7 linked regions of the Homo sapiens genome follow. The protein of the gene in region 4 interacts with the protein of the main gene of each other region in a pairwise test. Each region holds a gene or a part of one and is shown on either strand. Other genes may lie near its edges. The genes, in order: ITGB4, HCK, ZBTB47, MTUS2, ZNF764, SLC25A6 and TSHZ3.

Region 1 (3,500 bases), on a different chromosome or scaffold from region 4:
CCTGGAGTCAGGCAGGCCTGGGTGCAGATCCCTGGGCCTAGCCGCTCGGATGAGCCTAGGTTGCTCCTCTGCTTGTTGGTTTCCTCGGCATGCAAGCGTCGAGCCCGGAGGCTTGCTGGGGCAGTAAATGGGTTAGTGTCACGAAGCCCAGAGGCCCTGGCCACTGTCATTGTCGCTATGATTGTGACTGCGCTGGGAAGGAGGGAGTTTCCAGCCCTGAGGGAGGTGAGCAGGAGCTCATTTCAGGGATCCAGACATCTCCTAGGAACTTGGGGGCCGAGGGCCTTCAGGCATCGATGGCCCCCTGGTCCTTGGGGCTGGGCCTGCCTTGGCTGACCACGGGGCCCCTGCAGGGTATATACCAGGTGCAGCTGCGGGCCCTTGAGCACGTGGATGGGACGCACGTGTGCCAGCTGCCGGAGGACCAGAAGGGCAACATCCATCTGAAACCTTCCTTCTCCGACGGCCTCAAGATGGACGCGGGCATCATCTGTGATGTGTGCACCTGCGAGCTGGTACAACGCAGCCCCGCAGGGCGGGAGGGGAGAGCTGAGCCAAGCACCCAGGGACCCTGAGGAATGAAGCAGGACTCCTGTGCCCCATATCCCTTGTGGGGTTTCCCGAGGCACACAGGAGAGCGGAAGTGTCCAGTGGCCCCGGTCCTGCTCCCCCGACGCACCCCACCATGGTCTCTCTCATTCCAGCAAAAAGAGGTGCGGTCAGCTCGCTGCAGCTTCAACGGAGACTTCGTGTGCGGACAGTGTGTGTGCAGCGAGGGCTGGTGAGTGGGGAAGGGAGTTGGGCACCCAGGACACCAGTGGCCCCTGATGGGAAAGCTGGGCTCCTGCAGGGGCCTGGCCCTGGGTGCACCTTGTACACCTGGCTGGGGGTGGGGCGGCAATCAAAGAAACGGCTAAGGGCGGGGCACACCCAGTTGTTGGTCAAACCCAGGTCAAAGCACTTTGAAATACAGAGATATATGGGCTGTCTCTAGAAAGAGGTGTGAGGATTGAGACGGGGTTGGCTGTTGGGGCTGGGGTCTGGATCTTGGGGGACAGGCACACGAGGCTTCCTTTTTGCTCCATGCCTTTGGTATTCTGAGTCCTGTGTCATATTGCCTGATCAGAAGAGAGCTCGTAAATGCACGGCAGTAAGGGCTTTAGCTTCAGGACACTGGGCGAGCTTGCCACAACTTGAGGCAGAGCAGTGGGGAAAGGACACTGGAAGGGGTGACATGACAGGGCACTGGGGTTTAGGTCTCAGCTCAGCCACTTCTGTCTGCATGACTGGGAGCTGCCTCGGCCCTCTCAGAGCCTCAGTTTCCTCATCTGTAAAATGGGACAGCAGGCCAGGCGAGGTGGCTCACACCTGTAATCCCAGCACTTTGGGAGGCCGAGGTGGGTGGATCACCTGAGGTCAGGAGTTCAAGACCAGCCTGGCCAACATGGTGAAATCCCATCTCTACTAAAAATACAAAAAAGTAGCTGGGCGTGGTGGTGCATGCCTGTAATCCCAGCTACTCGGGAGGCTGAGGCAGAATTGCTTGCACCTAGAAGGCGGAGGTTGCCGTGAGCTGAGATCGCGCCACTGCACTCCAGCCTGGGCAAGAAGAGCGAAACTCTGTCTTGAAAAAAAATAAAATAAAATAGGCCAGGCGCGGTGGCTTACGCCTGTAATTTCAGCACTTTGGGAGGCCGAGGTGGGCGGATCACAAGGTCAGGAGATCGAGACCATCCTGGCTAACATGGTGAAACCCCGTCTACTAAAAATACAAAAAATTAGCCGGGCGTAGTGGCGGGTGCCTGTAGTCCCAGCTACTCAGGAGGCTGAGGCAGGAGAATGGCGTGAACCCAAGAGGCAGAGCTTGCAGTGAGCCAAGATCGCGCCACTGCACTCCAGCCTGGGCGACAAGGCGAGACTCCGTCTCAAAAAAAAAAATAAAATAATTAAATTAAATTAAATTAAATGGGACAGCAAAAGCCCCAGCTTTCCTCCTGGGCTGTTTCGGGGAATGACCAGTTCCTCCTTCAGGAGTGGCCAGACCTGCAACTGCTCCACCGGCTCTCTGAGTGACATTCAGCCCTGCCTGCGGGAGGGCGAGGACAAGCCGTGCTCCGGCCGTGGGGAGTGCCAGTGCGGGCACTGTGTGTGCTACGGCGAAGGCCGCTACGAGGGTCAGTTCTGCGAGTATGACAACTTCCAGTGTCCCCGCACTTCCGGGTTCCTCTGCAATGGTGAGCACAACAACTGCGGCCAATGCTGATGGCGGGGTAGGGAGTGGACAGCAAGCATGACTTTCCCGTCAGGACCCAGGTTGGGAGAGCCAGACTTGGAATCAGAATCCCCAAGTTCAGGCCCAGCCCACTCTGGATGCCCTGAGGGCCGCCCCTGAGTCCTGCCCCAACCTGGGCCTGACTTCCCTCATCTGTAACGTCCATGCCCAAGGTCACTGTTGGCAGGACTTTCCCCTGGTTTTAAGATTCCAACTCCCCTGAGGTTCTCTCTGGAAGTTCAGTTCTATGCCCACCCCACTTCTCCACACCCCTATCTCATTAGAGTGGGTGCCACCCAGCTCAGCCCTCCAATGGCTGGCAGGTATATGGCATTATGATCTTTCCTCTCTCCAAAGATGCTAAATTTCTGTGGGTTTTTTGTTGTTGTTGCTGCTGTTTTTTTTTTTTTTTTTTTTTTTTTTGAGACAGAGTTTCACTCTTGTCGCCCAGGCTGGAGTGCAATAGCACAATCTTGGCTCACTGCAACCTCTGCCTCCTGGGTTCAGGCGATTCTCCTGCCTCAGCCTCCCTAGTAGGTGGGACTATAGGCATGCACCACCATGCCCAGCTAATTTTGTATTTTTAGTAGAGACAGGGTTTCACCATGTTGGCCAGGCTGGTCTCGAACTCCTGACCTCAGGTGATCTGCCCGCCTCAGCCTCCCAAAGTACACATCTGTAATCACACCTGGGATTACAGGTGTGAGCCACTGAGCCCGGCCCAAAGATGCTAAATTTCTACCTGGAAGGCCTGGAGCTTCCTCTGTATTCCCATGGGTCCAGGCCATAGGCATACAGTCTGGCCAGGAACATCAGAGCTGGGCAGGATCACAGAACTCAGACAAGGGGACATAGGGAAGGATTGGTAGTTGAATGGAGGAGGATGAATGAAAATCTACTCATCAAATACTTATGAAGCCCTCACTGTATACTTTCCAAGCCCCTGCTTTTCTACTCTTTCTTCTGTTCTTGCTTTTGTTCACCATTTCTTCTCTTCGACTGTCTGTCCCTGAGTGTGCTCAGAGAAACAGAAGAGAGAACTGGGCACCACTGGAGAAAGGCAGACAAGTGGCACAGAGGGAGGTATGAGAGAGGAAGGGAGGAAGGTGCCTCTGGGGAAGGAGGCAGGGCCAGAGTACAAAGGGCTTCGGTTCTAGTCCAGAGCAGGACTTCATCCTTTGGACAAAAGGGGGTCACTGGAGGTTTTACTTTCATTTTCTAACTATTT
Region 2 (2,558 bases), on a different chromosome or scaffold from region 4:
CATCAGTCTTACTGCTTTCTCCCTCCTCGTCCTACAGCCTATTCTCCACTTGCAGCCAGAAGGATAATTCTAAACTTTAAATCAGATCTTGTCCTTTCTCCACCTTTTTTTTTTTTTTTAAGACAAGGTCTCACTCTGTCACTGAGGCTGTAGTGCAGTGGTGTAATCATAGCTCATGGCAGCCTCGACTTCCTAGGCTCAAATGATCCTCCCGCTTCAGCCTCCCGAGTATCTGGGACCATAGGCACATGCCACCATGTCTGGCTATTTTTTATTTTTTTAATTTTTTTGTAGAGACTTGGTCTCACTACGTTGTGCAGCCTGGTCTCTAACTTCCAGGCTCAAACGATCCTCCAGCCTTGGCCTCCCAAAATGCTGGGATTACAGACACACACCACCATGCCCAGCTAATTCTTTAAATTTTTTGAGAGACAAGGTATTGCTATGTTGCCGGGCTGGTGATTTCCATTTTTAAGCGATGCTTTCAGCATGGAGAGTGAATGGGAGGGAAAGGGAACAGGGTGGCAGCCAGTGAGGAGGCCACAGCAGTGGCCCAGGCAGAGGTGATGATGGTCTGGACAGGGTGGTGGCATTCGTGACTGGCATACGTTGATGAACTGGTGCTACGTTTCAAAAGGAGAAAAGATCTGACTTGCTGACTTAGGAGGTGAGAGAGAGAGAATAAAGGATGATTACCCTGGCTTTGCACCACAGGGTGGGTAATGGTCTAGGGATAGAAATTGGAGAGCTCTGTTTTAGCTCTGCTAAATTTGAGTTGACTTAAATATAGAGACATCCAAGTAAAGGAAGCACTTGAGTTCATGAGTTTGGAGTTTGAGACTAATAATATAAAATTGGGGATCACAGACATTGAATGGCTATTCTTATGAATAGCTAATAGAAACTTGAACTGAACAAAAAAATGGTCCCACCCATAGGTTAACATTGAATCTGGCCACCTGAATGTTTTGTCTTGAGGGTGCACTAGTCAAAACCAGGCAACACACAATAGACGCTGAATCCATTAGGATGTGTTCCACAGCAAGCAACAAAATAACAGACAAAGAGTAACTGAAATAGAAGCAATCTATTACTCCCAATCTTCCATTGGTGACTGGTTAGTTCAGCAACTCAGCAGCTGTCAGGACTCTGGGTTCCTGTCTCTATGATGGTCTTCTCCATGTTGTCAGCTCCAAGTATCATAAGTATCTCACAGTGTTCAAAGGAAGAGATGAAGGGTGCGTTCTCCAAAGACTCTCCTCTAAGCGGGAGGAAAAACCTTTCCATCACTTTCCCAGCAGACCTCCCCATCAGCTCCCATTGGCCCAAACTGGGTCCCAGGCCCATGTCCTAGCTGCAAGTGAAGCTGAGGGTGGAAGTCTGTCTTTCACAGTGGAAGGGGCTCAGCTTGCAAGGTGAGGTGGGGAGTGATGCCTGCTGGGGAGGCCACAGGGCCTGCCACCCCTGGGCTCTCATTTCCCAACTGCTTCCGTTTCTAATTCCACGGCTCCTTTTCAGGGATGTCAAACCCTGAAGTGATCCGAGCTCTGGAGCGTGGATACCGGATGCCTCGCCCAGAGAACTGCCCAGAGGAGCTCTACAACATCATGATGCGCTGCTGGAAAAACCGTCCGGAGGAGCGGCCGACCTTCGAATACATCCAGAGTGTGCTGGATGACTTCTACACGGCCACAGAGAGCCAGTACCAACAGCAGCCATGATAGGGAGGACCAGGGCAGGGCCAGGGGGTGCCCAGGTGGTGGCTGCAAGGTGGCTCCAGCACCATCCGCCAGGGCCCACACCCCCTTCCTACTCCCAGACACCCACCCTCGCTTCAGCCACAGTTTCCTCATCTGTCCAGTGGGTAGGTTGGACTGGAAAATCTCTTTTTGACTCTTGCAATCCACAATCTGACATTCTCAGGAAGCCCCCAAGTTGATATTTCTATTTCCTGGAATGGTTGGATTTTAGTTACAGCTGTGATTTGGAAGGGAAACTTTCAAAATAGTGAAATGAATATTTAAATAAAAGATATAAATGCCAAAGTCTTTACCAAAACGTTGGTTTTCCTGTCCTTCCAATTCCTGAATATCTATTTGCCTTCTTGCTGTATGACAAGTCAGAAATGGTGAAGGACTCTCCCGGGGACCAGAAATACAAAGACAAGTGGGGTTCAGACTGGGTGCTGTGGCTCCCACCTATAATACCAGTGCTTTGGGAGACCGAGGAGCGGGGGATTGCTTGAGCCCAGGAGGTCGAGGCCACAGTGAGCTATGATCGTGCCACTGCACTCTAGCCTGAGCGACACAGTGAGACCCTGTTTAAAAAAAAAAAAAAAAGATGAAGAAGAAGAAAGAAAGGAAAGGAAAGAAAATTGGGGTTCAATGCTTGAGGTTTTCTAACTGCCCTAAAATAGTTACTGGCTATATTAGTTTCCTCTTGCTCCTGTAACAAATTACCACATATCTGGTAGCTTAAGACAACAAAACTGCATAACATTACTTGGCCGGGCATAATGGCTCATGCCTATAGTTCCAGCATTTTGGGAGACTGAGGTG
Region 3 (3,500 bases), on a different chromosome or scaffold from region 4:
GTGGCCCCTGGTGGCTCAGGGAGGCTCCTGCTGAGGCCCACGGTAGGTTTCTCATTCAGGTGACTGAGAAGTGGAGCTCAACCACCACCACCCCTGCCCAATCCCAGCCTACCCACTGCTCTCCTGGCGATGGAAGGCCTGGCATGGGGAAGGGGGGCGGTAGGCTGTGGATGGATGGGGCCAGGATTCATCCCAGGGTCCCCAGGGAGGCACTGACAGCTATGGAGCTGATGGTTTTGTGGCCATCAAAATATTGTGGCAAGGTACCTCCCGAATGCAGGAGGCTCAGACCTGGTTGGGCAGGCCCTGAGGAGAGCCAGAACTTGGAACCAGTGGTGCTGGTCCAGCTGGGCTGGTGGTTGGTGGATATTAACAACATCTGCACATCACTGTGTGATGGTTCTCGTGCAGGGACTGGGCAGGCTGCCTGTCTGTGCTGCCCACCTTTTGGGGAGGCTGCTGTGGTAGAGCCGGGGTGACTGAGTTGGCTTCTATTCCAGGCAATTCACAGGTGCTGGATGTGGCCCACAGGCCTGATAGTCTGACCCATCAGACATTGAGGGCCTCCGCTAGGGCTCTGGAAGCCCCAGATGGTGTGGCCTCTAAGGCAGGGCTTTCCCAGAGCCTGTGGACATGGACCGTACCTGACCTGGGGTCTGGGGGTCTACCGGGAAAAGGATCTGGGGCAGGCCTTGGGGGCCTCCTGCCTGCAAGCATGGTAGGCAGGTTCCACAGCTGTGTCCTTCCACCCCTGCAGAGCCCCTGAGTGAGAGAGAGCTGCTGGGGGCTAGGCCTGAGGCTGCAGGCAGGGGTTGGGGGCAGCCTGGCCCAAGCCCTGGCTGTGATGAGGAGACCTCACCAGGCAGTGCAGCAGGACCAGAGTGGGGAGAAGGTATAGGCCCTGAGCCTGGATTTCTTCACAGGTTTCAACTTCTGCAGCAGCCACATGGCTGTTGCGATGAGGGGTTCCCTCAGGTGCTACCCCTTGGATTCTGTAGCCAGAGACTGGGCAGTGAGCAGTGAGCCCGGCTTCTGTTCTTGAGGTGTTTGGGGCTGGGCAAGCTTGCTTTTATTGGTATGTGTGAGTGAATATGTGGAGAGAATCCACGGGGCTGAGGAAATGCTGAAGGAATGCCTGTGGCCCTCCTGGGGTGACCACCTGGTCCCGGTGTGCCTGCGATGGTCCTGGTTCTAGCACTGAAAGCCCTGCACCCCAGAAAATGCCCAGGTCCCTGGCAAACCTGGATGGTTGGTCACTGTGGTCTCTCTTTCATCCCCTTTCCTTCCCTTTCCCTTCCTGGGATGACTTTTCCCATTTCCCAGGAGATGACCCAGAGGCCCAGAAAGTGACAGGACCTGATCTTCAGCCTCAGAGGGTCACGAGTGGAGCCTGAGCTCTGAGGCAGCTCACTCAGGCTTGAATCCCTTCCTTGCTAGTTTCGGCTCTGTTGCTGTAAAGTGGAGCCACGAGTGATGGGCTGCCTCCTGGATGGCTGGCAATGCTGGGAGTGGTGCTGGGGGAAGGGCGGGCAGGGGCCCACTGGCCTTGACCCACTCCTGTGCCCTCTGTCCCCGCAGTTGCTGGTTGAGAAGACAACTGACTCCCCGGCGGCTGAGTTCTCGCTGGTGGAGGACGTGGCGCTGCACTTTGCCTGCTTGATGGGCCGCCTGAACGAGCAGCGCCTCTTCCAGCCTGACCTCTGCGACGTGGACTTGGTGCTGGTGCCCCAGCGCAGCGTCTTTCCGGCACACAAGGGTGTGCTAGCCGCCTACAGCCAGTTCTTCCACTCACTCTTCACCCAGAACAAGCAGCTGCAGCGTGTGGAGCTGTCCCTGGAGGCACTGGCACCTGGTGGCCTGCAGCAGATCCTCAACTTCATCTATACGTCCAAGCTGCTGGTCAACGCGGCCAACGTCCACGAGGTGCTCAGCGCCGCCTCATTGCTGCAGATGGCTGACATCGCTGCGTCCTGCCAAGAGCTGCTGGACGCCCGCTCTCTAGGCCCACCAGGTCCGGGCACTGTGGCCCTGGCCCAGCCGGCTGCCAGCTGCACTCCAGCTGCGCCGCCCTACTACTGTGACATCAAGCAGGAGGCCGACACCCCAGGCCTGCCCAAGATCTATGCCCGCGAGGGCCCTGACCCTTACTCGGTGCGTGTTGAGGACGGGGCAGGGACTGCTGGTGGCACAGTGCCTGCCACCATTGGGCCAGCCCAGCCCTTCTTTAAGGAGGAGAAGGAGGGTGGTGTCGAGGAGGCCGGTGGGCCCCCAGCCAGCTTGTGCAAGCTGGAGGGTGGAGAAGAGTTGGAGGAAGAGCTTGGGGGTTCTGGCACCTACAGCCGCAGGGAGCAATCCCAGATCATCGTGGAGGTGAACCTCAACAACCAGACACTGCACGTGTCCACGGGGCCAGAGGGGAAGCCAGGTGCCGGGCCAAGCCCAGCCACCGTGGTTCTGGGCCGGGAGGACGGGCTGCAGAGACACTCGGACGAGGAGGAGGAGGACGACGAGGAGGAGGAGGAGGAAGAAGAGGAAGAGGAAGGTGGTGGCAGTGGACGGGAGGAGGAGGAGGAGGAAGAGGGTGGCAGTCAGGGAGAAGAGGAAGAAGAGGAGGAGGACGGGCACAGTGAGCAGGAAGAGGAAGAGGAGGAGGAAGAGGAGGAAGGGCCTAGTGAGCAGGATCAAGAGAGCTCTGAGGAGGAGGAGGGGGAGGAGGGGGAGGCTGGGGGCAAGCAGGGGCCACGGGGAAGCCGAAGCAGCCGGGCAGACCCCCCTCCCCACAGTCACATGGCCACACGGTCCCGGGAGAACGCCCGGCGCCGGGGTACCCCTGAACCTGAAGAAGCTGGGCGGCGGGGTGGGAAGAGGCCAAAGCCACCCCCTGGAGTGGCCTCTGCATCGGCCCGAGGGCCGCCAGCCACTGATGGGCTGGGGGCCAAGGTGAAGCTGGAGGAGAAGCAGCACCATCCATGCCAGAAGTGCCCACGAGTTTTCAACAACCGCTGGTACCTGGAGAAACACATGAATGTGACCCACAGCCGCATGCAGATCTGCGACCAGTGCGGCAAGCGCTTCCTGCTGGAGAGCGAGCTGCTGCTGCACAGGCAGACAGACTGCGAGCGCAACATCCAGGTGGGCCTCACGTGGCTGGGGGCAGGGCAGAGGCTGTCCAGGTGGGGCTAGGCCATAACTGGGCTCTGGGCACCTAGTGTCTTGCTGACTGCATTACCTAGGTGGTCTGCGGAGACCAGACTTAGCCCCCAGACAGGCTGGCCCAGGCCCAGTTCTCAGGGTGGTTAGAGCTCAGGGGTAACATCAAGCCGAGCTTCCTGGGAGAGGTGGATAGAGTTGGGCGCATGAAGAGATGTGCAGAGGATTGGAACAAACAGTACCCTTGGCCAGAGGGACAAAGGGGACACATGGACTTGGGAGGATGAGAGTGGAGAGTTGTCTGAGCAGACAAGGCCAGAAGACAGGCCACTCTGGGTGGGATGAGTCAG
Region 4 (3,500 bases):
TGGTAGGTCATGTTCACAGTTGTCTCTGGGTGGAGGGGTGCTGGAATATTGAGAACTGAATCTGCTCTTGCTGAGGTGCTTTCAATCTTATCTGCATTCTCTAGAAGGTTCCTGTTTTCAGCAACAGATGTGGTGACCTCTTTGCTTTCCCGTGCTTCTGAGCGGCCACTTTGAGGGTCCAGGGGCTCAGGCACCTCCGTCTTGTTCTCTCCAACAGAAGGATTGAACACCAAAACCATAACACTGTCCTTATTCCCACTGCCCAACCGCCTTTCCTCCTCAATGACATCCAAGGGCTTGCTGTCAGTCAGATTATTAGGAATAAAAGCCACATGACTGTCACCTGGTGAAAAGCTGCTGGATGTCCTTTCACCCAACTTCTCACCTGCACATGGTGAAATTTTGCCAGTGGGCTGATTATCAGCCCCTCCTAAGGAAGCAGAGCCCTGTTTGGGGGTGGTGTGGAGAGAATCCTGCTCCCCTGGGTTGACTCCTCTCTTCTCTTCACAGTTGCCTCTTCCCACCCCAAGGTGGTGGAGGTCACTGTTCAGCAGATGGCCAAGTGCATCGGTGGCTTCCGGGTGTGCTTCCCCACATGGATCCCTTCCCTCCAAGGCTGACAGATTCTCTTCCTTGTGGCATCCCAGATACCCTTCCTGGGCTGCCTTTCCCTCCTGTTCAACTCTCCTGGGAGGAACATATTTCAGATCCAGCTTGGCCTCTCCCTTTCCCTGACCTAATTGTGCTTCCAGTTTACTTGGGATTTCCTTCGATGCCAAAGTCAAATTCAGAGCAGGCTCTGGATGGGCGGAATGTGATGTGTGCTCACTGCACACCTGCAGTACATGTGCCCCCACTGTTTGGGTCTCTGAGGGAGTGCTCTGCTTGCTTTCTGAGGTAGATGGTTTAGGATGACGCACACTCTTTCCCTCTGAGGTACTGTCAGTTGCAGGGAAAGCTGCCGGGACAGCGTGGTCTGGCAATGTCTTCTGTGGCCCCTCCCCACCCCCAGGTATCTGACCCCGTGCTTCCCGGGAGTCGAGGGATAGAGGCTGTGGATGCTGCGGAGTCAGGCTCCCGACTGCAGCTACAGAGCTGCTTGCTCTTTCCAAAGAATGCCTCCTCAGTTCCTCATTGTCAAGGGTCTTTGCCAGTTTATCCTTGGGAACATGCCGGGGAATTTCAGCATCCCTTTTAGCCAAAACGTCTAGACTGGCCTCACTCATCACATTCCTCCAACTCGACAGACTTGGTCCCTGAATACTCCGCGTGGTCTGCAGGCTATCTGTGCCTCTCTCCACTGTGTGCTCTTCATTGAGTTCCCTCTGAATGGTTGAAGAAAGTCTAAAATCTTTCAGGCTGGCAGAGCCAGCCTGAGAGCCTTTCCCAAAGCCCTGAAGTTGGTGAAATTCCTTATGGAAATGGGTACGGTTTTCTGGCTCACTTGAATTTGTATTTCCAATTTCATCTCCCAGGTCACATGTCTTGGACTCGTCATGAGAGGAGCTGACCTCCAACATGATTTGATTGGCATTCGTATCTCCCAGACTTAAGATGCTTTCATTATTATTTCTTGCTGCATTTCTGTTGTCCCGCAACTGAGTGTAACATGATTTCTTAGGAGCCACTGGGACGCTCATTGTCAACCCTTTGGTGGGGCTGCTTGCCATGCAGTCCTACTTAATGGAAATGGGCTGCCTTCAAGCTGCAATCAGATTAAGAGGAAATTCTCAAGCTGCTTGTTCTCCCCTGACAATGTCACCTTGCGACACTGCTTTAATCATTCTCAGAACAGCTTGAAAACCAAGCATTGTCTTGATATACAGCAGGAAGACTTATCTGTTAGGTTCCTGCTGAATGAGAGCCAATCAGTCCATGAGACCTAGAGAGAAATAAAAATATATTCACATTAGATTGACAAATAGAACTTCTCAGGAGAAAAAAGTGGTAAACACAGATTTATTTGTCATTTCTATATTATTATTTCATTCAATCAATAGTTTTCTCAAAAAACCTTTCTGATCAGGGCTCCTCCTGGCCAAATACAAAAATTAAACATCAAAATGTTTAATGTTAGAAATGGATTATAAATGCATGTGAGATCTTAAATCTAAATTTTAAACATCCACAAGTCTATACTGATACTGATTTAAAAGGATGGAGGAGAAGTAAGGGCTCTTCTTTACAGAAGAATATCAACGAATGTAGAAAAAAATTATAGAATTTGAAAAATCACTATTTTGCAATCGCTACATTCATAATTATCTTACACAAGGGATGCCAAAGGTACAAACATTGGGTAAAAGATTGTTGGGGAACAAGATATTCATAGATGCTTAAAGTATCTTCCCCCAGGCTACTTCATTTCTTACAAAACGAAAATTTTATCTTTACAATGGAGAGATCTGGTAGACACCACATTAACCACGTGATCAAATTTAACATCACTAGTAATGAAACTGACATTACGGACTCCTGATATTAGTTAGTTCTCAGGGCCACACATCACCTATGCAGTAGTTAATGTTCAACCAGAATTTAACCATGAGACAATAATCTGGCAAATTTAAATTGAGGTATGTATTGCAAAATAACTGGCCTAACTGGTCCCAAAAAATGTCAGCGGAGCCTGGATTTTCAAAACATGTTAGCAAAGGATATTATTAGGACAATTAGAGATTTAAATATGGACTGTATATAAGGTACAGGTATTTTATAATTAATTTTCTTGGGTGTGTAATCGTGCTATAATTATGCCAGAGATTAATTTGGTTCTTGAAATATACATGCTTTAGAATTCAGAGGTAGTATGTCATGATTTTTCTAACTTATTCTCAAATGATTCGACCAAGAAAAACGTGTATGTATGTGTGTGTGCATATGAGAAGGAGAAAGAGTAAAAGAGAGAAACTGGCAAAAGTCAACCATTTGAAAATCTAGGTAATAATTCTATTACATCTGCAACTTTTCTATAGGTTTGAAATTTTCCAAAATAAAAACTTGGGGGAAATGCTTTACTCTGGCCTTCGAGGCCTGCATGATCAGGCCCTGAACACCTTTCTGGCCTCAACCCCACCTCACCCTCTGCTCTGCAGGCTGCAGCCACATTGGCCTCATTCCTCACAGTACCATGTTCATTACTCTCTGCCTCAGGGCCTTTGCGCATACTCTTCCATCTGCATGGAATGTGGAATCCTCCCCCAACCTCATCTTACAAGTCCTTTGCATCCTTCAATATGCAACATAACTACCACTTCCTCCAGGAAGCGTTCCTCACTAGGTCATCCTATAATGATGGATTTGTAGTATCCTGTATTTTCACTTTGAAGAATTAAAAAAAGACTTTCAGATTTGCTAGACACTGAAAATAAATATTGTCTAATACCTGGCATACATATTAGGCACGTATTATGTATTTGCAGCACAAATGAATGAATAAATGTCCAAATGAATGATGAGGAAGATCAGCGTTATTTCTGCCCCCAAAGAGTTTAAAATCT
Region 5 (4,082 bases), on a different chromosome or scaffold from region 4:
GACAGGGATTGCTCACTCGGGGAGTCGGTTTTTGAGATGTGAGTCTTGCCGATGCTCCCAGCCGAATAAAACCCTTCCTTCAACTCGGTGTCTGAGGGGTTTTGTCTGTGGCTTGTCCTGCTACAACAGGACATGTATGAAGTCACGTGGAGCACAGAATAGACCATCAGAAAGTGAGAGAGAGGTCTGGGGGAGAGTTGGTGACATTTACTAGATAAAGACCCTAGGGGAAGCAGATTGGGGCAAGAAAGGGATGAGTTGGATTTGAGTAGAGGAGCCTTGGGCCATCTGTCCAGGGGCAGGATGTGAGGGGAGGTGAGAGCCCGGCTGCAGCTACAGGGAGACTGGCAATTGGGAGGCGTCCTGAGCAGCACATGGGAGAAGCTCCTAGAAGAGAGGACCCTCTGACTTTCTCAACCTTACCCTACTCTCCCCACTGCCTCCGCCATCTAGAAACTTCCAGAATTTCAGGCCCCAACAAGCCTACGATGGAGGAGGTTCTCCTGTATCCACTCCTTTTTCTTTCTTTCTTTCTTTTTTATTTTTGAGACAGAGTTTCGCTCTGTCGCCCAGGCTGGAGTGCGGTGAGGCAATCTCGGCTCACTGCAAACTCCGCCTCGCGCGTTCAAGCGATACTCCTGCCTCAGCCTCCCCAGTAGCTGGGATTACAGGTGCACGCCACCACACCTGGCTGTTTTTTTGTGTGTTTTTAGTGGAGACGGGGTTTCACCATGTTGGTGAGGCTGGTCTCGAACTTCTGACCTCAGTTGTTCCGCTGGCCTCGGCCTCCCAAACTGCTGATTACAAGCGTGAGCCACTGCGCCACGCCCACTCCATTGGTTTTTTTACACTCAACATTGGGAAGAGACTGCTGTTGCCCTGTTTCTGAGATAACAAGGACAAAACGAGAGAGTGATGAGCTGGAGCCCGATTATAAAACGGTCCACAAACGAAAACTAATGCCTGAGTTCAGTAAGGCCGGGAGGCCAGCTCACTCCCGCGAGGCGCTCTTTTGTTCGTGCAAACCGGGGCGGAGCTCTCTGCTGCACCGCCTCGCCGGGCCGGGGCGGAGCTCTCTGCTGCACCGCCTCGCCGGGCCGGGGACTAAACATGCGCGGCTAGTTTTCAAGGCCGGCCTCTGTATTAGTCACCGCGGCCATTTTGGATGAGGGTACGGAGAGAACGCGGACTGGAGATACCGGGGGCGTTGTCTTGGGCACGACTGCGTAGGGGCAAAGGTCGAGTACCCGCGCCGCCGCCATTTTTTATGAGGGCATATTCCATTTCTGATTATACACCCGCTGCCATCGGCACCGTTAGTTTCCACGCCCTCTAGTGCGCCCTCGGGGGCCCTAGTAACCTCCCTCCTTCCCTTGGGCCCGGGCCGGGGAGGCTTTCTCGGGCGCAGGAGGTTCCGCAGGCCCAGGCCAGGCCAGGGGAGGCAGCCGATCCGTCGTCGGGGTTGACAGTTACCATGGCGCCGCCTCTGGCCCCGCTCCCTCCCCGGGACCCAAACGGGGCCGGACCCGAGTGGAGGGAGCCGGGGGCTGTGAGCTTCGCGGACGTGGCCGTGTACTTCTGCCGGGAGGAGTGGGGCTGCTTGCGGCCAGCGCAGAGGGCCCTGTACCGGGACGTGATGCGGGAGACCTACGGCCACCTGAGCGCTCTCGGTGAGAGCCCCACCTGCTCGCCTGAGCCCTGCGCCCCCACAGGCCCTGCCGCGCCTCTGGGAGCTGCGCGTGAAGTTGGGGGCCCCGGGGCCGGGCAGGTGGCCTCCCCGCAGCGTGGGGTTTGCGTTCTTCTTCCCTAGGAATCGGAGGCAACAAGCCAGCTCTCATCTCCTGGGTGGAGGAGGAGGCCGAACTGTGGGGTCCGGCTGCCCAGGATCCGGAGGTGGCGAAATGTCAGACACAAACGGACCCAGGTGGAGTATCGGGTGCTCAGTCCCATGGGGACTTCTCTGTTCCTGTCCCATCCCGGTACCCTCTGCCACCTCCAGCTACCTGCTTAGCAGTTTCCTCTCTGAACTGCCTTCTCAACTGCGACGACGAGGCTGAGCCCCTGCGTGGCTCCCAGATGCAGCCTAGAAAGGAGCTGTGATGGGGGCTCTGGCCCTGCCATACCCGCCTCTGAGTCCTCACCTCTGCGTGGTCACTACACTCTGGGGGCTTTTTTTGGTGTTTTTGTTTTAGAGACAGGGTCTCGCTTTGTTGTCTAGGCTGAGTGCAGTGGCGGCATCATAGCTCACTGTAGCCTGGAACTCCCGGGCTTAAGCAGTCCTTCCACCTGGGCCTCCAGAGTAGCTAAGACTGTACAGGTGCTCGCCACGAAGCCTGGGTAATTTTTTTTTTTAGACAGAGTTTTACTCCGTTGCCCAGGCTGGAGTGCAGTGGTGCCATCTCAGTTCACTGCAACCTCCCACTCCCAGGTTCAAGTAATTCTCCTGTATCAACCTCCCAAGTAGCTGGGATTACAGGCGCCCGCCACCAAGCCTGCTTAATTTTTTTTTTTTTTTTTGAGACAGAGTCTTCCTCTGTCGCGCAGGCTGGAGTGCAGTGGCGCCATCTCGGCTCAGTGCAAGCTCCGCCTCCCTGGTTGACGCCATTCTCCCGCCTCAGCCTCCCCAGTAGCTGGGACTACAGGCGCCCGCCACCACGCCCGGCTAATTTTGTTTTTGTGTTTTTAGTAGAGATGGGGTTTCACCATGTTAGCCAGGCTGGTCTCGAACTTCTGACTTTGTGATCTGCCCGCCTCGGCCTCCCAAAGTGCTGGGATTACAGGCGTGAGCCACCGCGCCCAGCCAATTTTTTGTATTTTTAGTAGAGACAGGGTTTCACTATGTCGCCCAGGCTGGTCTTTAACTCCTGGAGCTAAGCGATTCGCCTGCTTCGGCCTTCCAAAGTGACCCACTGCGTCTGGCCTAATTGTTTTAAATTGTTATGTAATATATATATTTTATAGAGGGGGTCTTGGCTCTCGGTGTGTTGCCCAGGCTGGTCCTGAAATCCTAGGCTGATCCTCCTTCTCTACCTCCCAAAGCGCTGGGATTACCGCCTTGAGCCCCCACGCCCAGTCTCTTAAACTCTGTTGACTCTACCTCCACCTCAGGACCCACCCCTGCCGTTCACCTGCAGGCTGGTTCCTTTCTCCCCGTCCGCCCCCCTTTTTTTCTTTCATTTCTTGCCCTCAGCCTTTGCAGAGTATCCAGCCCCACTGAACTTGGCCATGCCCTCCTGGTTCTGCCTTTCTTGGTGCTGTTCCTGCTGCCTGGAACATCCTCAGGTGTCCGTTCCTCCTTCTGGATCAGGCCCAGATGTTCATGTCATCTCTGCCCTTCCCCCACCGTGACATTTCCCCAGCCCCGAGGCGGAATGGGCTGTTCTCTCCCTCCCGGCTCTGTCTGGCTCTGCAGCCGAGGAACAGGTGTCACTCCTCCATCTCCCAGGAGCAGCCGGGGATCCAGCAGGCCTGTCCCTGTCCACGCGGGCTGTGGGATTCAAGGACCAGGATGAGCCGAGCCTGAACTCTCCCCTCTTTATCTCTCAGCAGATTCCAGAAACAAGAAAAAGGAAAGACAAAGGGAAGGGACGGGAGCCCTGGAGAAGCCCGACCCTGTGGCCGCCGGGTCTCCTGGGCTGAAGTCTCCCCAAGCCCCCTCGGCCGGGCCCCCTTATGGTTGGGAGCAGCTGTCCAAGGCACCGCACCGGGGACGCCCCTCCCTCTGTGCCCACCCCCCTGTCCCCCGAGCTGACCAGCGTCATGGCTGCTACGTGTGCGGGAAGAGCTTTGCCTGGCGCTCCACACTGGTGGAGCACGTCTACAGTCACACTGGCGAGAAGCCCTTCCACTGCACTGACTGCGGCAAGGGCTTCGGCCACGCTTCCTCCCTGAGCAAACACCGGGCCATCCATCGTGGGGAGCGGCCCCACCGCTGTCTGGAGTGTGGCCGGGCCTTCACGCAGCGCTCGGCGCTGACTTCGCACCTGCGCGTCCACACCGGCGAGAAACCCTATGGCTGCGCCGACTGTGGCCGCCGCTTCAGCCAGAGCTCTGCCCTCTACCAGCACCGGCGCGTGCACAGC
Region 6 (3,462 bases), on a different chromosome or scaffold from region 4:
TGGACTTGGAGACGCCGTCTTCTCCCTGTGCCCTCACAGCATCATCCCTCTGTGTGTGTCTGTGTCCTCATCCTCTCTTCTTATGGGATGTCTTAATCCATTTCAGGCTGCTATCACAGAATACCATAGACTGGGTGACTATAAACAACAGACATTGATTTTCCTACAGTCCTGGAGGCTGGAGGTCTGAGATCCAGGTGTGGGCAGGGCTGGTTCCTCCTGCGGCCTCTCTCCTAGGCTTGTAGATGCCGTCTTCTCCCTGTGCCCTCACGGGGTCGTCCCTCTGTGTGTGTCTGTGTCCTCATCTCCTCTTGTTATGAGATGTCTTAATCCATTTCAGGCTGCTATCACAGAATACCATAGACTGGGTGGATTGTAAACAGCAGACATTGATTCTCCCACAGTCCTGCAGGCTGAAGGTCTGAGACCAAGGCATGGGCAGGGCTGGTTCCTCCTGAGGCCTCTCTCCTGGGCTTGGAGATGCTGTCTTCTCAGGCTTTTTCCTGTGTGTGTGTCTGTGTCCTCATCTCTTGTTATGAGATGTCTTAGTCCATTTCAGGCTGCCATCCCAGAACACCATAGACTGGGTGACTTAGAAACAACAGACATTGATTCTCCCACAGTCCTGGAGGCTGGAAGTCTGAGATCCAGGTGTGGGCAGGGCTGGTTCCTCCTGAGGCCTCTCTCCTGGGCTTGGAGACTCCGTCTTCCCTGTGTCCTCACAGGGTCGTCCCTCTGTGTGTGTCTGTGTCCTCGTGTCCTCTTCTGATGAGATGTCTTAGTCCATTTGAGGCTGCTATCACAGAATACCATAGAGTGGGTGGACTGTAAACAACAGACATTGATTCTTCCATAATCCTGGAGTCTGGAAGTCTGAGATCAAGGTGTGGGGCAGGGCTGGTTCCTCCTGAGGCCTCTCTCCTGGGCTTGTAGACGCCGTCTTCTCCCTGTGTCCTCACAGGGTCATCCCTCTGTGTGTGTCTGTGTCCTTATCTGCTCTTCTTATGAGGTGTCTTAGTCCATTTCAGGCTCCTAAAACAATACTATAGACTGGGTGGCTTATAAACAGCAGACATTGATTCTCCCGGAGTCCTGGAGGCTGGAAGTCTGACATCAAGGAGTGGGCAGGGCTGGTTCCTTCTGAGGCCTCTCTTTTTGGCTTGTAGACACCGTCTTCTCCCTGTGTCCTCACAGGGTCATCCCTCCGTGTGTCTGTGTCCTCATCTCTTTTTAGAAGGACACTGGGGTCGTAGGATCAGGGCCCACCCTACTGGCCTCCTTTAGTCTTACCTCTTTCAAGACCTTATATCCAAGTACAGTTGCATCCTGAGGTCCTGGGGTGGGGGTGGGACTTCAGCATGTGGATTTTGAGGACAGAGTGTAACTCCCATAGTAACGGTGACCCTTCAGAAGGTCAGGGCCCTATTCCCTTCCCCAAACAGGCCTAACCCCGGCCTCTGGGACTGTCTTGCTGGGCTCCGGTAGGTGGCAGGCGGCCTTTTCCCCTCTGGCCCTGCCCCGACCTCTCGTGTTGTAAACGTCAGCTGGCACTGAGCAGCCACGTGGAGGGGGCACTGGTGGTCTCGGAAGAGCTCGGCACCACCTCAGGGGGCCGTGAGCACACCCTGGGGGCCGACCCTGGTCTCGGGTGGCCGTGCAGGCGCTGGAGACGGTGACGTGCCGTTCCCGCGCAGGCATGCTCCCCGACCCCAAGAACACGCACATCGTGGTGAGCTGGATGATCGCGCAGACCGTGACGGCCGTGGCCGGCGTGGTGTCCTACCCCTTCGACACGGTGCGGCGGCGCATGATGATGCAGTCCGGGCGCAAAGGAGGTACTCGGGGGGGCGGGGGACCCTTGCTGCCGGGAAGGGGAACCAAGCTCCTTGCCCTAGGCCCGTGGGAGGTCAGGAACCATCAAAGGAGGCACTTCCAGGGCGTGTGAGACAAGCAAGTGTGTCCGAAAGTAACCTGGCTGTGTGGAAGGATTTTCCTGAACGATGGGCTTCTGATCTTTTTGGGGTTTCATGGTCCGGGCGGCAGTTTCTAAATCCCCGCCTCCTAGAACCTCTGGTTGCACCCACACCCTCGATCCTGCCTTCTCTGCATGGACCCCGGGGTGGAGATGGGGGACACCCAGGGCGGGGCCTGAAGTCCTGTGTCCAGCCCTCCCTGAGACAGTGGCTTAGGAGGAGGGCTTGAGCTGGGGGAGCCTCAGGTATCCCTCCTGTAATCAGAACTGTGGCTCAGGCGTCTGGGGTGTTATTTCTGTGAAACGTCTTTGTGGGTGCAGGTGGCGTCCGTGTCTTGAAGAGCTTGGCGGCGAGGCCCTCACTGTCTCCCTGTCGTTGCAGCTGACATCATGTACACGGGCACCGTCGACTGTTGGAGGAAGATCTTCAGAGATGAGGGGGGCAAGGCCTTCTTCAAGGGTGCGTGGTCCAACGTCCTGCGGGGCATGGGGGGCGCCTTCGTGCTGGTCCTGTACGACGAGCTCAAGAAGGTGATCTAAGGGCCGCGGCCTCCTCCACACACACACACACACCAGGGGAACCAAGAGAACCACGTAGAATCCTCAACCGTGCGGACCATCAACCTTCGAGAAATTCCAGTTGTCTTTTTCCCAGCCGCATCCTGCCTGTAGATGGCCGGGGAAGGCTCTAGAAAAGGGGCGCATTGCGATCCAACCATCGGCAGCCGATTCCGTGTCTTGATCACGGGGTGGGAGGGAACCGTGGCGTCCCTGCGTGGGGCCCATGGGTGAGACACTCCAGTACTGAGACCTAGAGTCCAGATGCTTGTAGGAGCCAAGTCGTGTTCTAAGTATTTATTTAAAACAAAAGAATCACGTTTTCCCATTTGTACTTCAGCGCTAGCCCCTGTTTTGCACAGCCGAGTACTGGCGAGTATGTTCTATGTTGGGCCTCCTGCTGCAAAACAATAAACAGAGGACGCAGAGGTCCTCCTGCCTGGCCACGCACCTCTCCACAGGGCGGCCTGGGGTCTGGAGATGGGCGCTGGGCCCACGGGACGCAGATGGGGCCACGCTCTGCCCGTGGCTGGCCCACGTTCCTGGTCTGCAGTGCTGCCTCCTCCCCAGCACCCCTGGGGCACAGAGGGCAGGGTCACAGCTGGGAAGAGGCGGGGGGTAGAAACCAAGGCTGGCAGAAGTGTAGCCGGGCTCCCTGATAAATGCTGGAGGACCCCAGGGCACCTGCACTTACTGTACCCTCTCTGAGAGCATTTGTATGATCTCATGTCTCAGCTCTGGAGGCTGGAGGTCCCAGAAAACCAAGGTATGGTAGATTCAGTCTCTGGTGAGTACCCAGTTCCTGGCTTCTAGATGGCGCCTTCTCCCTGTGTGTCCTCAGATGATGGATGAGGCCAGGGTGCTCTCTGGAGTCCTTTCTGTAAGGGCACTGATCCCATCCATGAGGCCTCATGACTCCCAAAGACCCCCAC
Region 7 (3,500 bases), on a different chromosome or scaffold from region 4:
ATTTTAACTGTTTAATTTTACAAATACATGTACCCATCTGGGTTGCTGTGTTTTCCTGAGAGCCCAGAACATATTCTAGGTAAGATCAACAAGTACTAATGCTTTTTTTTTTCTTTCTCTCCTTCTCCCTGTCTCTCTTCATTCCATCCTACCTGTCTCTCTTTCCCACCTGTTATCATGGCAGCCTATGTTTCCGAAGAGTTAAAGGCTGCTGCCCTGGTGGACGAAGGTTTAGACCCAGAGGAGCATACGGCAGATGGAGAGCCCTCGGCCAAGTACATGTGCCCGGAGAAGGAGCTCGCCAGGGCCTGCCCCAGCTACCAGAACTCCCCGGCCGCCGAGTTTTCCTGCCATGAAATGGACAGCGAGTCACACATCAGTGAGACCAGTGACCGAATGGCTGACTTTGAAAGCGGCTCCATCAAGAACGAAGAGGAGACCAAGGAGGTCACGGTCCCACTGGAAGACACGACTGTGTCGGATAGCCTGGAGCAGATGAAGGCCGTGTACAACAACTTCCTCTCCAACTCCTACTGGTCCAACCTCAACCTCAACCTGCACCAGCCCTCCTCGGAGAAGAACAACGGCAGCAGCAGCAGCAGCAGTAGCAGCAGCAGCAGCTGTGGCAGCGGGAGCTTCGACTGGCACCAGAGCGCCATGGCTAAGACGCTGCAGCAGGTGTCACAGAGCCGCATGCTCCCGGAGCCCAGCCTCTTCAGCACCGTGCAGCTGTACCGGCAGAGCAGCAAGCTCTATGGCTCCATCTTCACGGGGGCCAGCAAGTTCCGCTGTAAGGACTGCAGCGCTGCCTACGACACCCTGGTGGAGTTGACGGTGCACATGAACGAGACGGGGCATTACCGCGACGACAACCATGAGACCGATAACAACAACCCCAAGCGCTGGTCCAAGCCTCGCAAACGCTCCTTGCTGGAAATGGAAGGGAAGGAAGACGCCCAGAAGGTGCTGAAGTGCATGTACTGTGGCCACTCCTTTGAGTCCCTGCAGGATTTGAGTGTCCATATGATCAAAACAAAACACTACCAAAAAGTGCCTCTGAAGGAACCCGTCACTCCTGTCGCCGCCAAAATCATCCCTGCCACTCGGAAGAAAGCTTCCCTGGAGCTGGAGCTCCCCAGCTCCCCAGATTCCACAGGTGGAACCCCCAAAGCCACCATCTCAGACACCAACGATGCACTTCAGAAGAACTCCAACCCTTACATCACGCCAAATAATCGGTACGGCCACCAGAATGGGGCCAGCTATGCATGGCACTTTGAGGCCCGGAAGTCGCAGATCCTGAAGTGCATGGAGTGTGGGAGCTCGCATGACACCCTGCAGGAGCTCACTGCCCACATGATGGTCACTGGCCACTTCATCAAGGTCACCAACTCTGCTATGAAAAAGGGGAAGCCCATTGTGGAGACGCCTGTCACACCTACCATCACAACCCTGCTGGATGAGAAGGTCCAGTCCGTGCCCCTGGCAGCCACCACCTTCACGTCCCCCTCCAATACACCTGCCAGCATCTCCCCAAAACTGAATGTGGAGGTCAAGAAGGAAGTCGACAAGGAGAAAGCGGTCACTGACGAGAAACCTAAGCAAAAAGACAAGCCTGGCGAAGAAGAGGAGAAGTGTGACATCTCTTCCAAATACCATTACTTGACTGAAAATGACTTAGAAGAGAGTCCCAAGGGGGGGCTTGATATCCTCAAATCCTTGGAAAACACAGTGACATCCGCAATCAACAAGGCCCAGAACGGCACTCCTAGCTGGGGGGGCTATCCCAGCATCCATGCCGCCTACCAACTTCCCAACATGATGAAGTTGTCCCTGGGCTCGTCGGGGAAGAGCACGCCCCTGAAACCCATGTTTGGCAACAGTGAGATTGTCTCCCCGACGAAAAACCAGACCCTGGTCTCTCCACCCAGCAGCCAGACGTCCCCCATGCCCAAGACAAACTTTCATGCCATGGAGGAGCTGGTGAAAAAGGTCACTGAGAAAGTTGCCAAAGTGGAGGAGAAGATGAAGGAGCCGGATGGGAAGCTTTCCCCGCCCAAGCGGGCCACTCCCTCCCCATGTAGCAGCGAAGTCGGGGAACCCATCAAGATGGAGGCATCCAGCGATGGGGGCTTCCGCAGCCAGGAGAACAGCCCCAGCCCCCCGCGGGATGGGTGCAAGGATGGGAGCCCCCTCGCTGAGCCGGTGGAGAATGGCAAGGAGCTGGTGAAGCCCCTAGCCAGCAGTTTGAGTGGCAGCACGGCCATCATCACCGACCACCCGCCTGAACAGCCTTTTGTTAACCCTTTGAGCGCCCTGCAGTCAGTCATGAACATTCACCTGGGCAAGGCCGCCAAGCCCTCCCTGCCTGCCCTGGACCCCATGAGCATGCTTTTCAAGATGAGCAACAGCCTGGCGGAGAAGGCTGCTGTGGCCACCCCGCCGCCCCTGCAGTCCAAGAAGGCAGACCACCTCGACCGCTATTTCTACCACGTCAACAACGACCAGCCCATAGACTTGACAAAAGGGAAGAGTGACAAAGGCTGCTCCTTGGGTTCAGTGCTTCTGTCACCCACGTCCACAGCCCCGGCAACCTCCTCATCCACGGTGACAACGGCAAAGACATCTGCCGTCGTATCATTCATGTCAAACTCGCCGCTACGCGAGAATGCCTTGTCAGATATATCCGATATGCTGAAGAACTTGACAGAGAGCCACACGTCAAAATCCTCCACTCCTTCCAGCATCTCCGAGAAGTCTGACATTGACGGGGCCACTCTGGAGGAGGCTGAGGAGTCGACGCCCGCCCAGAAGAGGAAGGGCCGCCAGTCAAACTGGAACCCCCAGCACCTCCTGATCCTCCAGGCCCAGTTTGCCGCCAGCCTCCGGCAGACCTCAGAAGGGAAGTACATCATGTCAGACCTGAGCCCCCAGGAGCGGATGCATATCTCCAGGTTCACCGGGCTGTCCATGACCACCATCAGCCACTGGCTGGCCAACGTGAAATACCAGCTTCGAAGGACAGGTGGAACAAAGTTCCTCAAAAACTTGGACACTGGCCACCCCGTCTTCTTTTGTAACGATTGTGCGTCCCAAATCAGGACTCCTTCCACGTACATCAGTCACCTAGAGTCACACTTAGGCTTCCGGCTACGGGACTTATCCAAACTGTCCACCGAACAGATTAACAGTCAGATAGCACAAACCAAGTCACCGTCAGAAAAAATGGTGACGTCCTCCCCCGAGGAAGACCTGGGGACTTCCTATCAGTGCAAACTTTGCAATCGGACCTTTGCCAGCAAGCACGCTGTTAAACTTCACCTTAGCAAAACACACGGGAAATCTCCGGAAGACCACCTTCTGTATGTCTCTGAGTTAGAGAAGCAGTAGCATTTGCTTTTGATAGAAAGGACTGCAGTTTGCTTTGAGGGAAACTGTGGAAGGCACCTTCAGGCCCCCTCTGACTTGTTGTTCTTGGCACATGTTCTTATTTTAACTGC

What was found.
Region 1: the proteins of MTUS2 (region 4) and ITGB4 interact in binary tests that used the Homo sapiens proteins (3 or more experiments, as listed by UniProt).
Region 2: the proteins of MTUS2 (region 4) and HCK interact in binary tests that used the Homo sapiens proteins (3 or more experiments, as listed by UniProt).
Region 3: the proteins of MTUS2 (region 4) and ZBTB47 interact in binary tests that used the Homo sapiens proteins (3 or more experiments, as listed by UniProt).
Region 5: the proteins of MTUS2 (region 4) and ZNF764 interact in binary tests that used the Homo sapiens proteins (3 or more experiments, as listed by UniProt).
Region 6: the proteins of MTUS2 (region 4) and SLC25A6 interact in binary tests that used the Homo sapiens proteins (3 or more experiments, as listed by UniProt).
Region 7: the proteins of MTUS2 (region 4) and TSHZ3 interact in binary tests that used the Homo sapiens proteins (3 or more experiments, as listed by UniProt).

What each region holds. Positions count from the first base shown.
Region 1 is NC_000017.11:75,731,459-75,734,958, forward strand, and holds part of ITGB4 (integrin beta-4 isoform 1 precursor), read left to right. Parts: intron 1-353; coding exon 354-515; intron 516-704; coding exon 705-781; intron 782-2,031; coding exon 2,032-2,234; intron 2,235-3,500. UniProt on the Homo sapiens protein: Integrin alpha-6/beta-4 is a receptor for laminin. Plays a critical structural role in the hemidesmosome of epithelial cells. Is required for the regulation of keratinocyte polarity and motility.
Region 2 is NC_000020.11:32,099,799-32,102,356, forward strand, and holds the end of HCK (tyrosine-protein kinase HCK), read left to right. Parts: intron 1-1,518; coding exon 1,519-1,721; 3' UTR 1,722-2,058; downstream 2,059-2,558. UniProt on the Homo sapiens protein: Non-receptor tyrosine-protein kinase found in hematopoietic cells that transmits signals from cell surface receptors and plays an important role in the regulation of innate immune responses, including neutrophil, monocyte, macrophage and mast cell functions, phagocytosis, cell survival and proliferation, cell adhesion and migration.
Region 3 is NC_000003.12:42,656,697-42,660,196, forward strand, and holds part of ZBTB47 (zinc finger and BTB domain-containing protein 47), read left to right. Parts: intron 1-1,578; coding exon of another isoform or gene 1,579-1,659; coding exon 1,660-3,132; intron 3,133-3,500. UniProt on the Homo sapiens protein: May be involved in transcriptional regulation.
Region 4 is NC_000013.11:29,022,839-29,026,338, reverse strand, and holds part of MTUS2 (microtubule-associated tumor suppressor candidate 2), read right to left. Parts: intron 1,883-3,500; 5' UTR 1,671-1,882; coding exon of another isoform or gene 1,641-1,670; coding exon 1-1,640. UniProt on the Homo sapiens protein: Binds microtubules. Together with MAPRE1 may target the microtubule depolymerase KIF2C to the plus-end of microtubules. May regulate the dynamics of microtubules at their growing distal tip.
Region 5 is NC_000016.10:30,555,575-30,559,656, reverse strand, and holds the start of ZNF764 (zinc finger protein 764), read left to right. Parts: upstream 1-1,282; 5' UTR 1,283-1,474; coding exon 1,475-1,670; intron 1,671-1,810; coding exon 1,811-1,924; intron 1,925-3,546; coding exon of another isoform or gene 3,547-3,549; coding exon 3,550-4,082. UniProt on the Homo sapiens protein: Zinc finger protein that functions as a cofactor for steroid hormone receptors, such as NR3C1/GR.
Region 6 is NC_000023.11:1,385,652-1,389,113, reverse strand, and holds the end of SLC25A6 (ADP/ATP translocase 3), read left to right. Parts: intron 1-1,694; coding exon 1,695-1,835; intron 1,836-2,354; coding exon 2,355-2,512; 3' UTR 2,513-2,962; downstream 2,963-3,462. UniProt on the Homo sapiens protein: ADP:ATP antiporter that mediates import of ADP into the mitochondrial matrix for ATP synthesis, and export of ATP out to fuel the cell.
Region 7 is NC_000019.10:31,276,437-31,279,936, reverse strand, and holds part of TSHZ3 (teashirt homolog 3), read left to right. Parts: intron 1-184; coding exon 185-3,390; 3' UTR 3,391-3,500. UniProt on the Homo sapiens protein: Transcriptional regulator involved in developmental processes. Functions in association with APBB1, SET and HDAC factors as a transcriptional repressor, that inhibits the expression of CASP4.